2 linked regions of the Homo sapiens genome follow. The protein of the gene in region 1 interacts with the protein of each later gene in a pairwise test. Each region holds a gene or a part of one and is shown in the gene's direction. Other genes may lie near its edges. The genes, in order: LMBRD1 and ABCD4.

Region 1 (8,191 bases):
GCTTCTTAGATTTAAAAACATCATTCAAGAGAATGTGTTCAGTCCTTGCTGATCTGATTTATATGTTAAATGACTAGACTTAAGAATAAAGAGAATGTTGATATGCATGCCTATACCTACCCCCCAAAATGACTTTTTCTTCTCACTCTACTCATCTTTCTGATTCAAATTACTATTCCTCTGTAACTAGTCACTCTTGTCAACAACACAGAAATATGAGGCTTTTCCGAACTGAAAGTCAAGCAACTGCCCAATACAACTTTGGCAGTCAGAGGCAGCAAAAGGGTTCGGCCAGTTTATTTAATGGACTTAATTCAATGGAGGGCACATCAGATGTTAAAAATATTTAGTCCAGATTCAGTAAAAGCTCCAATTTCACATATAATTTAAAGCAGTGGGGAAGATTTTTTATCATAATAATTTATGTGACCCAATATATCCCAAATATTATCATTTTAATATGTAATCAATATATAATTGTTAATGAAGTATATAGCTTTTGGCACTAAATCTTGGCAACTCTGTCTATATGTTAAGTTTTCAGCACATGTCAGTTCAGAGCAGCCTATTCCATGTGCTCAGCAGCCCCACGTGGCTAGTGGCTGCCACACTGAAGTGCAGCTCTGAGGGCTCTGACTCTCTTGATCTAAGGAAGGTGAAGGGCCTGAAACACTCTTTCCTGCCAGAAGTGAGGGAACAGCCTCTGCCTCCCAACAACTCTCCTCAGGCCCAAGGGTGAGAGATTTTTGCCCCTAGAAAGCAGGGTTTACAAGAAGAAAGTGTCCACAGTTACCACTGCTGCCCACCTGGCGTCCATCTTCCTTCCAGAGATCAGACAGTAAACAAAGGATGATAAGGCCCCTCAAAAAGGAAACTCAATGTCTTCAGATCTGTCTACATCCTTGATCTCCAAAGTTTAGGTATGGAGGAAATAGATTAAAGGTGAACTTCTTATTTTGCTATTTGCTATTTGGCCTTGGCCCTAATGGTCAGGCCATGGCTGTTTCCTCCTGTGGCATGGCGGACTGCGTAATTTAAGCACCAATCACATGCACACATCTACATGCATTTTGGTATAACTCACCACCATCTAACAAGAGATCCAACTTTAAATAAGGGGAAAATGAAATCTGTACCTGTCGGGTGCTTTCTGTTTGCAGGTAACTAGTAATCAACCTGTCATTGAATCCTGACATCCCATTCATACTGGGTACATATATTACTTAGCTATTGTATAACAAACCATGCAAGACTTCCTAGCTCATGATGGAGTTGCTCAGCCATTTGGGCAGGGCTCAACTGGGCCATTCTTGTGGGCTCAGGTGGGCTCCTTCAGGCATATGTGATCAGCTGCTGTTGACTAGGCGGCTCTGCTTCTGAGTGTGAGTTGGCTGTCAACTGGAGCAGTTTGGCTCTCCTCCCCATGGTATCTCATTCTCCAGCAGGCTAACATGGGCTTGCAGTCATGGAGATGGTAGGGTTCTCCAGAAATGGGACATTTCAGCAAATTTTGACTGTCCTCAAGATCCTTAGGGGAGTCTTTTTCCTTTCAGCTCCAGAACCCTCTCACTGGGTCCTGACTCTGGGCTCCCTTTCTTACCTCCAGGTGAGCAGGAGACCTGGATCCTGGTCCCCAGAAAAAACGGAGGCCCCAGGGCTTCCATGGAGGAGGGTCAGATTTTTATTTTTACTTGTCTGCATTCTAACTATGAATTCTCCCTTATATGCATAATTAAAAAGGGATTCAAGAATTTATTATATAACTCTTAGACCCCTCAGACAAATAAAATTTCTACAAATGTATTAGCAAGAGGAGAAGATTCATAAACAGATTTATTTAATGAGAACTGTTGCTGACCTGTGGAATTCCATCCTTAACTCCAAAGAGTGGTGTATTTGTGGGTGAGGTGGAGGGGTGGGTGGGTTGGAGTGGGGTGTTACCTTCTAACCCTTAGCCTAGTAAGGGAGGCCTCAAGGGAGCTACTTGGAGAATTTGAAATATGGCCCCTGAAATTGAGGACACAGAGGGCTAGTGTCTGACCCAGTAGAGAGAACTACAGTGGACTGTAGCATCAGGGGCTGACTTTCTTGGGTATAATCAAAAAGGGCTGATTCCTTTGATTGTAGAACTAGGAGAATGGAGCTACATTGGGATTGGCCTGTGCTCCCAAAGTTGTTGGTGCAAGGTATGTATCATCATTCCTACAGAGGGGATTTAGACTATTTGGGGAAAGGGGAAGAACTGGCTTGGGGTTGTCTTAGGCCTCTCCTCCAACTTAAATGAGCTTCTAGAAGAAGATTACAAGACCTCAGCAGGAAAAGGAATAATTAAGTATACCTCAGTATGCTCTGGGGCTTGTGGAGGAGATATAAGTGACTACCTGTCAGTGGCTCAAGTCCCTGCAAGTTTGTGTCTTTCCACAGTCAGACTTTTGTTGATGCTATTTCAATCATAAAAGCCATGAGCTGTATGAAGGTCCGAAGGAGGTAATTTTCCTTAGTAGTACCCATTCATTTGGTAGTCAGAACCAAGGACACAAAGCTCTAGCCACTCCACAAGTCAGTCAATATTGCAAACCAAACATAGTAGTATACATAACATATAAATATTATAGGCTAAACATTCTAAAAGAAAATAACATTTAACATCAAGAGAAAGGTTAGGAAAACAGGATTAACCAATCCAAGGAGAGCAACATGGACAAGGAGAGTGTCCTCGGCTGATCAGGATGCATATCAACATTTTGCAAGGAAGAGTCTTTGATTTGAGCAGAACCTTTGGTGGCAGATGCTAGATGCTGATCATGAGTGACAGTAAGACAGTGTCTGTTAAGATGGCTATCTTGAGCTGTTGAAGTTCTACTCTTTTTATAGCCTCAGAGTCCTCTGGTGTTGACTGATAGTAAAGAGTGTGCCTGCAATAGCAAATACTTGGAACCAACTGAAATGTCCATCAGTGATAGACTGGATTAAGAAAATGTGGCACATATACACCATGGAATACTATGCAGCCATAAAAAAGGATGAGTTCATGTTCTTTGTAGGGACATGGATGAAGCTGGAAAACATCATTCTCAGCAAACTATTGCAAGGACAGAAAACCAAACACCACATGTTCTCACTCATAGGTGGGAATTGAACAATGAGAACACTTGGACACAGGAAGGGGAACATCACACACTGGGCCCTGTTGTAGGGTGGGGGAAAGTGGGGAGGGATAGCATTAGGAGATATACCTGATGTAAGACTAGTTAATGGGTGCAGCACCTCAACATGGCACATGTATGCATATGTAACAAATCTGCACGTTGTGCACATGTACCCTAGAACTTAAAGTATAATAATAATAATAATAATAATAATAATAATAATAAAAGAGTGTGCCTGGTTATGTCGTTATCTGGTTGGGTGCAGTCTCTATTGATTAGGTGAACATCTGGTCCCTTTTGGCATGATTCCTTTTGAAATGTAAACAGAATCTTTTTCTAAGAAGTAGTTACTTATGTCAAGGGTGCTCTATACAATCTGGAATAGAGATATCAACCTGGAAGCGATACCTCTCTTCACTTTAAGGAAGCTATGACAGAGGTCTCCAGGGATATGAATTATTAGGAAGAAAGAGTGAAATTCAAACATTTGCAGGTCTAGAGGGCTTAAAGCCAGCTTATGATGGTACCAGTTCAAGTTAAAACTGTATTCTCCCCTATTCCCTTCTTATTCTGTCCAGGCAGGAAGGACCATCCTATTTTTTCCCTCAGGCTTCCAGCCGGAAGTAGATTATAGGTAGAGCATAACTCATCACCACATAATACATTGGAAAAAGATGATGGTATTTTTTCTCAGAGTTGTTTCTTGACTACATCACAGTGGTGAAACATGCACTCACACCCCTGTGGACTCAGGTAAGCCATCCCAAGAGTTTCCTCCCTGTGGACTCAGGTAAGCCATCCCAAGAGTTTCCTCCTTCTTCTTCATTGTGGGCCTATGGCAGTGTGTTTTGTTTGCTGATGCATATACCTTTACATACAAAGCTATCATGGAAATTCACAGGCATGCATACATCTGAATAGAAAGGCTATAACATCATGTGATAAGTTCATGTCCAGCCAACCAGTTATCCCGGCTGGGCACCAGTGCCAGTAAATTAGAGTGATTTGGGCAGCTAGTCAACTTTTATTCAGAGTCAGCTGTCTCATGCGTCCGTGTGAAGAGACCACCAAACAGGCTTTGTGTGAGCAACATGGCTGTTTATTTCACATGGGTGCAGGCGGGCTGAGTCCGAAAAGAGAGTCGGCAAAGGGTGGTGGGATTATCATTGGTTCTTACAGTTTTTCGGATAGGAGGTGGAGTGAAGAGCAATGTTTTGGGGGTAGGGGGTAGATCTCACAAAGTACATTCTCAAGGGTGGGGAGAATTACAAAGAAACTTCTTAAGGGTGGGGGAGATTATAAAGAACATTGATCAGTTAGGGTGGGGCAGAAACAAATCACAATGGTGGAATGTCATCAGCTAAGCTATTTTCACTTCTGTGGATCTTCAGTTGCTTCAGGCCAGCTGGATGTATACGTGAAGGTCACTGGGGATATGATGGCTTAGCTTGGGCTCAGAGGCCTGACATCAGCCATTCTTGCAACCTGGTAAGGAGTTCTGCTAATCACACACATTCCACCTTGTACACGAGGGCCAAACTTCCTTTTGGTGAAGAAGTATAAACCTCTAAAATTGACTTGGATCTCCAGGTCCACCTAGCCCATTCTTTGTGGAGTTCCCTTGCTGTTCTAGTCTATCAACTTAGGCTGAGTCAAATATCTCAATAGGTTGCCCAGCTATGAGCCAACACCCTGCTCTGCAGCCCTCCCACATCTCAGCTTGCAGGGAAGCCAGCGAGGGCAGCGTGGTGATGTCACTGCGTCCGCACGCGCCCCGCCCCTGAGCAGTCCTTGCTGCCCCGCCCCCGCTCGGCTCGCCGCCAGGGGACGCTAGTGGGTCCAGTCTCCTTGGCAACCACTTGCTCCTCCCCCTCCGCCCCTTTAACCTTTAGGGTGCGCGGGTGCAGTATATCTCGCGCTCTCTCCCCTTTCCCCCTCCCCTTTCCCCACCCCGGGCGCTCAGGTTGGTCTGGACCGGAAGCGAAGATGGCGACTTCTGGCGCGGCCTCGGCGGAGCTGGTGATCGGCTGGTGCATATTCGGCCTCTTACTACTGGTAGGGGAGGCGCTTGGAGTTTTCCCCATGTTTGGACTGGGGGAGGAAGGGAGGGGCAGGCCCTGCAGTTGGCCTCTCCGGGCCCCGGAGACCCTCTTCGCCCCGCCCCGCTTTTAGCTTGGACTGTGGAGGGCTCCTTAGTGTTGGGGGCTTGGGCGGGCGGCGGGGGCAGGGGGGTGTCGATTTCCGGTCTCTTTTGCTGTCATTTCACCGATGACGTCTAGGGTTGCAGGGTCCTTTTTGGAAGCTCTTGCCGTCATCGCTGACTTGGGCAATGGGGCCGGTGGGGTTTGGGGGCGGAAGAGACCCTCGGGGTTGAGAAGTATGTGGTGGCCTTTCGTCCCCTGTAAAACATTGTCACACGGTGTGGGGCGGCAGCGCTGGATCTTTGCAAGTTAAGTAGGCGCTGGCGTTGTTTACTTGTCACCTTCTCTGTATGTTTTTTCCCTCATTTTCCCTACCCTTGGGGCTAGTGAGTCTCCAACCTCTGTGCCCATTGTGTGATTCTGCCTTGATGACGTGAGTTGCTCGTTCTGACTTCCAGGTGTCACATTCTCTTCTAATCTTTTTTTGATTGGTGTAGATACCTGTGGAGGGCGGAGCTGTAGCCCTCTTTATTACCAGTATCGGAGTATATACTACTACCTGTCTGACCTCAGGTGCTTTCTTTTCCAACGATCTTATTTCTGCATATTCAGTGAGCAAAGTGTAGATAGAAATGTCTCAGAGTGGCCTGGCTATTACTTCCCTGTTCATATTAAAACCCTTTGGTTTATTTGGGAGTTCAATTTATTTCCTTTCATAACTTCTCTACCTTCTCAAATCTTCTCTTTTCTCATCGTCCGAGGCTGTAGTTACTTTCTGTTCTCACGTATTTTGACCTTTTTGCATTGCAAAACAAAAACCTCCAGTTCTGGAAATCAGGCTTGTTTGGTTTTACTTTAATTGTCAGATCCAGTTGGTGTCTGGTACCTATGTAGTATGTTCTAGTAGATTTTTGCAGTAGAGACTAAAAAAAGAAAATAAAAGAAAAGAATGGTGTGAAAATTTAAGAAAAGGATCCTCTTGTTACTGCCATCACTGTCACAGATAAAAACACTGCCTTTACCCTGGAACATGTTAGTCCTCTCTTGGAGGAAATGAAACCCTAAAGGTTGACTGTGGTCTCTGCAGCCACCCAGTCCTGTATTTGGAGAGCCCCCTGGCTTTTCCAGTCCATCAGATTTAGTTTGTTTAGAAAAAAATAAATAAGCATGTAATGTATGAAAGTTACGTGAGACTATCTTGGCAGTTATAAATTAATAAACATTTACGGTACAGAAGTGGTGTGAATTGTAAGAGGATGTAAACCAAACAAAATACGGCTTTAAAGAGGGCCTGAAGATAAGTGAGAAAACTGAAATTCTTGAAACATGTATTTTATGGACCGAAAGCCAAAGTGTGACTATAAATAAAGCAGGACTTAAGAGAATAGACAACAATATTGGAAGAAAATGAGAATTGTGGTAGAGTTTGGATAGATGAAGAAGAGAGGCCATTTAAGTTGGCAATATTACAGCAAGGACAAATAAAATCAGAATTGAATGTTGTCGTGGATAAAAGCATTAGGAAGAAGGACTTTTGTTTAAATTTCTGCAAATCTCTTTAAATCCTGGTTTATTAGAAGAAAGGCTGGTTTCTTTTGTTGCCTTCTACATTCAGTCTTTTGGGGTATGTTATTTTAGTCGAAGTGTATGGAGAAAATACAGCTGCAATGATAGGTAGTCAGAAACAGAGGAGCGTTTTTCAGATAATTGTGGATGTTTTTTGACACTACACCAAAGCTCAACAAGTGGAAGATTCATGTCAGCTGCAAGGTGGAATCTGAAACCCTATCAATGAGCATTTCATTCATTGTTACATTAAAATCCATTAGCCCATCTTGCACTTTGAAAGGCTCTTTTACCCATGCATGGTTTTATAACATGATGCCATGGCCACTTAGAAAATGTTGGTTTACTGAGTTATGCACATCTTTTAAATATGGATACGTTTCATTACACAATATCAAAATATCACATTTCATTAAATTACAACTGATCTTGTCAGAAATGTCTCTGAAAATTCTAAGTATTGAAGAGTTGTCAAGCTCATACTTGTGGATGTAAGTCTTTCAAAATCCAATTTTCATTTGAAAGTTTGACTCATAATTATCATTGGTATCAAATACTGTCAGTTTTTCTTTAAGTGATAGATTCCCTTTGTTCATTTGACAAAATCTGCCAAAAAGCGAAGTCTGAATAACCAGTTTGACAATTGTTCTTTCAAGTAAAAATGGTGTTCCTTGAAGAGTGGTTGGTTTAGCTTTTAACTCTAAACTTTTCCTGGAGATAGCCATCACATCTTGGTATGCAGCAGGACTTTATGTACGCATGCTTCATATTTTACCCCACAAAGTATTAAAAAGAGTCAAGGGTTGAATTTCAATAAAATGAATTTATGCTGCTTTGTGAAGCACAGTCTTAATTTAAATTGTCCCTTTTTGAACTTGTGGTGAAGAATACAATGATTACTGGTGCAGTTTGGTGCCACTGTCTTGATTCACGCTAATGCACCAGTAGTTTTACCCACTGTGGCTATGAACCATGAGTGCAAATGTCAGCACAGTGAAAAAGGCAAATAGCATCTTAGTATTTATTATGAGAATAGTTTTCAACTTCTGAATCTCCAGAAAGGATTCTGGGGACTACCAGGGCCTAGGGATTTCACACTTGGAGAACTTCTGCCAATCATCTACTAAATATTCAGGACATGGGCCAGGTGTGGTGGCTCACACCTGTAATCCCAGCACTTTGGGAGGCTGAGGCAGGTGGATCAGTTGAGCTCAGGAGTTGAGACCAGCCTGGGCAGCATGGCAAAGCCCCATTCCTACTAAAAATACAAAAAATTAGCCGGGCGAGGTGGCAAATGCCTGAGGTTCCAGCTACTCAGAAGGCTGAGGTGGGAGG
Region 2 (7,162 bases), on another chromosome or scaffold:
CAATCTAAACATACAATAGCTTGGAGGACAATATTTAGAAAACAAAAGCCAATGTAAAAAGACAGATTAAAACAACTAGAGGCCAGGAGCGGTGGCTCCGCCCTGTAATCCTAACACTTTGGGAGGCTGAGGCAGAAGCATCGCTTGAGCTCAGGAGTTCTAGACCAGCCTGGGCAATATAGTGAGACCTCATCTCTATTTAAAAAAAAAAAAAAACTTAAAAATTAGCTAGGCATGTTGGCGCATACCTGTAGCCCCAGCTACTCAGGAGATTGAGGTGGGAGGAGTTGGAGACTGCAGTGAGCTGTGATTATTATCCCACTGCACTCTACCTGGACCACAGAGCAAGAACCTGTCAAAAAAAAAAAAAAAAACCACACATACACAGACACACACACACACACACACACAAACCAACTACACTAGAACAGTATAGGTTTTATATGGCTTGAATTTCACAGTTTTCTTAACTGCATCATCAGTATCAGAAATCTGTTCTTGGCCAGGTGCAGTGGCTCACATCTGTAATCCTAGCACTTAGGGAGGCAAAGGTGGAGGATCACTTGAGCCTAGGAATTTAAGACTAGCCTGGACAACACAGTGAGACACCTCCCCCCAACCCCTGCCTTCTCTACAAAAAAAATTTTTTTTAATTAGCTGTGTGTGATGCCAGCACCTACAGTCCCAGCTACTAAGGAGGCTGAGGTGGATCACTTGAGCCCAGGAGATGGAGGCTGCGGTCAGCTGTGATCCCACCACTGCACTCCAGCATGGGCAACAGAGCAAGACTCTGTCTCAAAAAAAAAAAAAAAATATATATATATATATATATATATATATGTATATTTTTACATATATATATTTTACATATATATTTTTACATATATTATATATATATAATCTTTAAATTTAAATTTTAAAAAATCTGTTCCTTCAGCTGGCTTCTTTGCTCCAAATTCAAAGAAATACCTTCTCTTCCTGGTTTCATTTCACCTTCTGGATCCATCCAATATTATTTAATATCAATTACCCTTTAAAATCCCAAACACTGGCCCGGCTTGGTGGCTCACACTTGTAATCCTAGTACTTTGGGAGGCCAAGGTGGGCAGATCACTTGAGGTCAGGAGTTCAAGACCAGCCTGGCCAACATGGTGAAACCCTGTCTCGACATAAAAGACAGAACTTAGCCAGGCATGGTGGCGAGTGCCTGCAGTCTCAGCTACTCAGGAGGCTGAGGCAGGAGAATTGCTTGAACCTGGGAGGCAGAGGTTGCAGTGAGCCAAGATCGTGCCATTGCGCTCCAGCCTTGGGGGACAAGTCTAAAAAAAAATCCCAAACACTAATGTACCTCATTTTCCTAACCTGAAACATCATGTTATCATCTGTGCTGCTGCTGCTGTTCTCTTTGGAAGATGATAGAGCTCTTCAAGTTTCACCAGTCTTTTGCTTCTTTACAGGTCTTTCTGGAGCAACCTGCTTTTTCCTCTTTAACTTTTTGTCAACATCACTGTCAGAACCGCTGCCAGAAGAGCTTGAAGAAGTAAGTTCCTTTGATTTGGGCATTACTCTGCTCTGCTGCACTCCAGTAGCCTCCCGCTTGCTCACTGGTAACTCTGGTGTATTACTTCTTCTTCTTCTTTTTTTTTTTTTTTTTTGAAACAGTCTCACTCTTGTCACCCAGGCTGGAGTACAATGGCACAATCTCAGTTCAATGCAACCTCCGCCTCCTGGGTTCAAGTAATTCTCCTGCCTCAGCCTCCCAAGTAGCTGGGATTACATGCACCCGCCACCACACCTGGCTAATTTTTGTACTTTTAGTAAAGACGGGATTTTGTCATGTTGGCCAGGCTGGTCTTGAACTCCTGACCTCAGGTGATTTGCCTGCTTCGGCCTCCAAAAGCGCTGGGATTACAGGCGTGAGCCACCGTGCCCAGCCTGCTACTTCTTAAAAGTTTACAGTAATAGACAATGCTGAGGCACCCTGGGACAGTAATGCCACCGAATACCAAACTAGGACATTTTTGAGACTGAAAGGGGACAAGATCTGTAAACCTAGATTACCCTAGAGAGGTGACGTTGCTTGCTTTAATACTTTGGTTGCCTTATTAATTTTTCAAAAATTGCATCCTATTTTTTTGGTTTTCAAAATAAGAAAGACATACTTGAATAAAGTTATTTCCTCTTCAAAGTCTTTCTAGATTCCACTTTTCCCCATGCTGAGTTAAATGCCTTTCTCTTTGGTTCTGGGGCAGTGGTTCTCAATGCTAGGGGGTGGGGTAAAGCTGGAATTTTGGTCCTTTCTCCCCTAAGGGACATTTGGCAATGTTTAGAGACATTTTGGGATGCCTAGGTCAGAAGGAATGCCACCGGCATCTAGTGCGTAGAGGCCTGGGATACAGCTAAACATCCTACATTGCATAGGAAAGCCTACACAGCAAAGAATGATCAGGCCCCAAAACTTAATGGCGCCAAAGTTGAGAACCCCTGCTGTATGGTATGTTTGTCATAGCACTTCATAAAGACAGCTGTAGGCCGGGCACGGTGATTCACACCTGTAATCCCAGCATTTTGAGAGGCCAAGGTGGGTGGATCACCTGAGGTCGGGAGTTCGAGACCAGCCTGACCAACATGGAGAAACCACGTCTCTACTAAAAATACAAAATTAGCCGGGTATAGTGGTGCATGCCTGTAATCCCAGCTACTCGGGAGGCTGAGGCAGGAGAATCGCTTGAACCCGGGAGGCACAGGTTGCAGTGAGCCAAGATAGCACCATTGCACTCCAGCCTGAGCCACAAGAGCGAAACTCCGTCTAAAACAAAAACAAAAACAAAAAAAGGCCAGGAGCGGTGGCTCACTCTTGTAATCCCAACACTTTGGAAAGCCAAGGCGGGCAGATCACCTGAGGTTAGGAGTTCAAGACCAGCCTGACCAATATGGAGAAACCCTGTCTCTACTAAAAATACTAAATTAGCTGGGCGTGGTGGCACATGCCTGTAATCCTAGCTACTCGGGAGGCTGAGGCAGGAGGATGGCTTCAATCCGGGAGGCTGAGGTTGCCGTGAGCCGATATCGCGCCATTGCACTCTAGCCGGGGCAACAAAAGCAACACTCCGTATCAAAAAAAAAAAAAAAAAAAAAAAAATCTGTAATTGTCAACTGATTGACCTACCCAGCTAGACTGCAACTTTCATAAAGACAAGTGATACATGCATGTTGTAGAGTGTTTGGCTTGCAGTTGAAACTTAATAAGGATTGGAGGAAAGTGAGAAGACACATCCAGATTCAAATTTAGGGACCTGTGGGATCATGCTGTTTGGGTTTTTTTTGAGCCATTTCCCACCTCCCTTTGGGTACTAATCAGTCAACTGATAAGCATTTCATTCATTCAACTATCTATCTTATCTATCGATCATTATCATCTATTTATTTGTTTTTGAGACAGGGTCTCTCTTTGTCGCCCAGGCTGGAGTGCAGTGGCACAGTCACGGCTCACTGCAGCCTTGACCTTCCGGGCCCAAGTGATTCTCCTGCCTCAGCCTCCAGAGTAGCTCGGACCACAGGCGCTCGCCACCATCCCCGGCTAATGCTTTTGTCTTTTGTAAAGGCGGGGTCTTGCCATGTTGCCCAGGCTGGTCTTGAATTCCTGGGCTCAAGCGATCCTCCCGCCTTGGCCTTCCAAAGTGCTGGGATTACAGGAGTAACCCACCGGGCCCGGCTGGAAGCCTAATTTATACTTTTTTAAAGATCATGCTGGCTTCTCTGGGAGAATATGTAAAACATCTATTATACACAGAATCTAAAATACTTGCCATAAAGTAGTTACACTCTCGGATACCTATTGTCAAAAGGGAAGTCTCCCAGAAAATATGGGGGCGCTGTAGCCGCCGGGTCAGCCGAGTCCACTCTCTGGTACTTTTAGAGACGTCGGTCGCTTCCGGGAGAGTCCGCGTCTCCCGCACCTTCCTCTCTATCAAACGCCGTCTCTGTGGTAGCCGGGGCCCCGCCCCTCCTCGGACTCTACCCAGTACTGAACTAGGGGCAGCTGGGCTCCAGAGTCCCTCGGGTCTCAGGTCATGGCGGTCGCGGGGCCCGCGCCCGGAGCTGGCGCCAGGTAAGCAGGGCGGTCGGGGAGGAGGTTTGGGAGCAGGAGTTCCGGGCTGTAGGGAATGGGCTTTCCTGCCCTCCGTGCCTCGTCCGCCGCCCTGGCGCCCCCGTCTCGCCCCCGTGACTTCTGAGAGAAAGAGGAGCTCTCGAAGGGGCGTCCGCCCTCCCGCCGCTCTAGGCCGCTCCGCACCGGCCGCGGCCCCCTCCGTTCTTGGCCGGACTTGTGCCATCTCCTGCGGTGTGGGACCCTCACCCTCGCAACTGGCATTCTTTTTTTGAAAAGAAGAACCTCAGGTGCACAAAATTGAGTTGATCCTTCTCAGTTCTTGACACCCTGTGGGCCAATGCAAGGCTCCTTGTTTATTTTATCACTTCCTCTCTTCGTTCCTATTCCCAGACCCCTTTCACTCCCCTTTTCAGACAGCCACTCTGGTGTGTTATATAAGTGGCTTTACGGTCCACCTTGGGTAAATTTGTGCAAGTGTTACTTTGAAATCTATATAGCGGTTTCGAATTCTTCAATATAATATGCTGTGATTTTTCTTTAAACCTTTTTCCTCAACATTGTGTTTTTGAGTCCATCCATGCTAGTCATCTTGTTTTCACTTCTGAGTGCTTGCATGAGGGGTGCTGTGTGCATAGACTTATTCCCCTAGTGGTGGATAGATTTTTTTCTAGTATTAACACCCCCACAAGCCACACTGTAACGAATATTCTGGCAGTTGTCTCCTTGTGCATATTGTTGCATTTCTCTGGGTATCCACCCCAGAGTTGGGTCCTGGTCATATCTAATTTTGCTGGATTGTTCTTTGGAATGGTCACACTAGTTTATACTTCCCGACGGGCAGTGCATAAAGCTTCCTGTTTCCCGGTATCCCTCCATCGTTCAGTGGCGGCTGGTTTTGTAATGTTTATCAGTCTGGGGGGTGTAAGGTGGTATCCCATCGTGTACATTTTCTTTCTTTCTTTCTTTCTTTCTTTTGAGACGGAGTTTTGCTCTTGTTGCTCGGGCAGGAATGCAGTGGCATGATCTCGGCTCACTGCAACCTCCGCCTCGGGTTCAAGCGATTCTTCTGCCTCAGCCTCCTGAGTAGCTGGGATTACAGACGCGCGCCACCACACCCAGCTAATTTTTTGTATTTTTAGCAAAGATGGGGGGGTTGGCCAGTCTGGTCTTGAACTCCTGACCTCAGGTGATCCACCCGCCTCGGCCTCCCGAAGTGCAGGGATTACACTTCCCGACGGGCAGTGCATAAAGGAATTACAGACGTGAGCCACTGCTCCCGGCCTACATTTTCATGTGTTTATTAAACGTGGGTTTTCCCTTTTTTGAATTGCCTGTTTATATCCCTTCCCACTTCTCTGTGGATTTCCTATGTTCCTGGCTTGCAGGAATTCTTGTAGGCTCTAGATTTAGATCCTGGCCATGCCCGGTGGCTCACACCTGTCATCCTATCACTTTGGGAGGCTGAGGTAGGTGGACCACTGGAGTCCAGGAGTTCAAGATCAGCCTGGGCAACATGGTGAAACCCCATCTCTACCAAAAATACAAAAATTAGCTGAGCGTGTTGACGCACGCCCGTACTCCCAGCCACTAAAAAGGCTGAGGTGGGACAGTCGCTTGAACCCGGGAGGCAGAGGTTGCCCTGAGCTGAGATCGCACCACTGCATTCCAGCCTGGGCAACAGAGCAAGACCTTGTCTCAAAAAAAAAAAAAAAAAGATTTTAGGCCAGGCGCGGTGGCTCACGCCTGTAATCCCAGCACTTTGGGAGGCCGAGGCAGGTGGATCACCGGAGGTCAGGAGTTCGAGACCAGCCTGACCAATATGATGAAACCCCGTCTCCTACTAAAAATACAAAAATTAGCCGGGCGTGGTGGCATGCACCTGTAATTGCAGCTTGTCAGGAGGCTGACACAGGAGAATCACTTGAACCAGGGAGGCGGAGGTTGCAGTGATCCGAGATTGCGCCGTTGCATTCCAGCCTGGGCAACGAGCAAAACTCCGTCTCAAAAAAATAAAGATTTCAAGTCCTTGTTGGTTTTGCACTCTGCAGATACCACCTCCAAGTCTTCTAACTTAATCTATGGCACTGTGTTGAATAAAAACATTTAACTCTAATGAAGTTAAATTCATCAGTTTTCCCCTGTATAGGTTTTTAAGGTATCTTCATTAAGACATTTTTCTACATTTCCTTCTATTAACATGATAGTGTTACTTTTCACGTTTAGATTTTTAATCCATTTGTAATTTTTTAAGTTTTTTGTTTTTGGTTTTTTTTTTTTTTTTGAGACGGAGTTTTGCTCTTGTTGCCCAGGCTCTTGTTGCAATGGCGCAATCTCAGCTCACTGCAACCTCTGCCTCCCAGGTCCAAGCAATTCTCCTGACTCAGCCTCCCGAGTAGCTGGGATTACAGGCATGAGCCACCACGCTTGGCCAAAGAATTTCCTTTGTATCCGTGGTCTGTTCCCAGCCTACCATCTTCAGCATTTGAAAACCATTCTTTCTGCATGGCCTGGACCCTCTACAGAACAATGTGGATGAGCTTAATAACTACTCCCTAAGGCTTAATTATTGTCTTGGGCTTTTCTCTGCCTCCCCACCTTCTCTTCAGGCCCAGGTTAGATCTGCAATTTCTCCAGCGGTTCCTGCAGATACTGAAGGTTTTGTTTCCTTCTTGGTCATCACAAAATGCCTTGATGTTCCTGACCCTTTTGTGCCTGACCCTACTGGGTGAGTGAGTGAGCCCAGACTAGAGGAGGGAGGGGAGCTCTGGTTTGGGGTCCCTTTCCATCTTTTTTTTTTTTTTTTTTTTTTTTGAGACAGAGTTTCTCTCTTGTTGCCCAGGCTGGAGTGCAGTGACATAATCTCAGCTCACTGCAACCTCTGCCTCCCTGGTTCAAGTGATTCTCCTGCCTTCGCCTCCTGAGTAGCTGGGATTACAAGCACCCACCACCACGCCCGACTAAACTTTGTATTTTTCAGTAAAGACAGGGTTTCACCATCTTGGCCAGGCTGATCTCGAACTCATGACCTCAGGTGATACACCCGCCTCAGCC

The links.
Region 2: the proteins of LMBRD1 (region 1) and ABCD4 interact in binary tests that used the Homo sapiens proteins (3 or more experiments, as listed by UniProt).

Annotation. Positions count from the first base shown.
Region 1 is NC_000006.12:69,793,826-69,802,016, reverse strand, and holds the start of LMBRD1 (lysosomal cobalamin transport escort protein LMBD1), read left to right. Parts: upstream 1-5,006; 5' UTR 5,007-5,135; coding exon 5,136-5,204; intron 5,205-5,407; exon of another isoform or gene 5,408-5,723; intron 5,724-8,191. UniProt on the Homo sapiens protein: Lysosomal membrane chaperone required to export cobalamin (vitamin B12) from the lysosome to the cytosol, allowing its conversion to cofactors. Targets ABCD4 transporter from the endoplasmic reticulum to the lysosome.
Region 2 is NC_000014.9:74,299,824-74,306,985, reverse strand, and holds the start of ABCD4 (lysosomal cobalamin transporter ABCD4), read left to right. Parts: upstream 1-4,051; 5' UTR 4,052-4,073; coding exon 4,074-4,111; intron 4,112-6,717; coding exon 6,718-6,836; intron 6,837-7,162. UniProt on the Homo sapiens protein: Lysosomal membrane protein that transports cobalamin (Vitamin B12) from the lysosomal lumen to the cytosol in an ATP-dependent manner. Targeted by LMBRD1 lysosomal chaperone from the endoplasmic reticulum to the lysosomal membrane.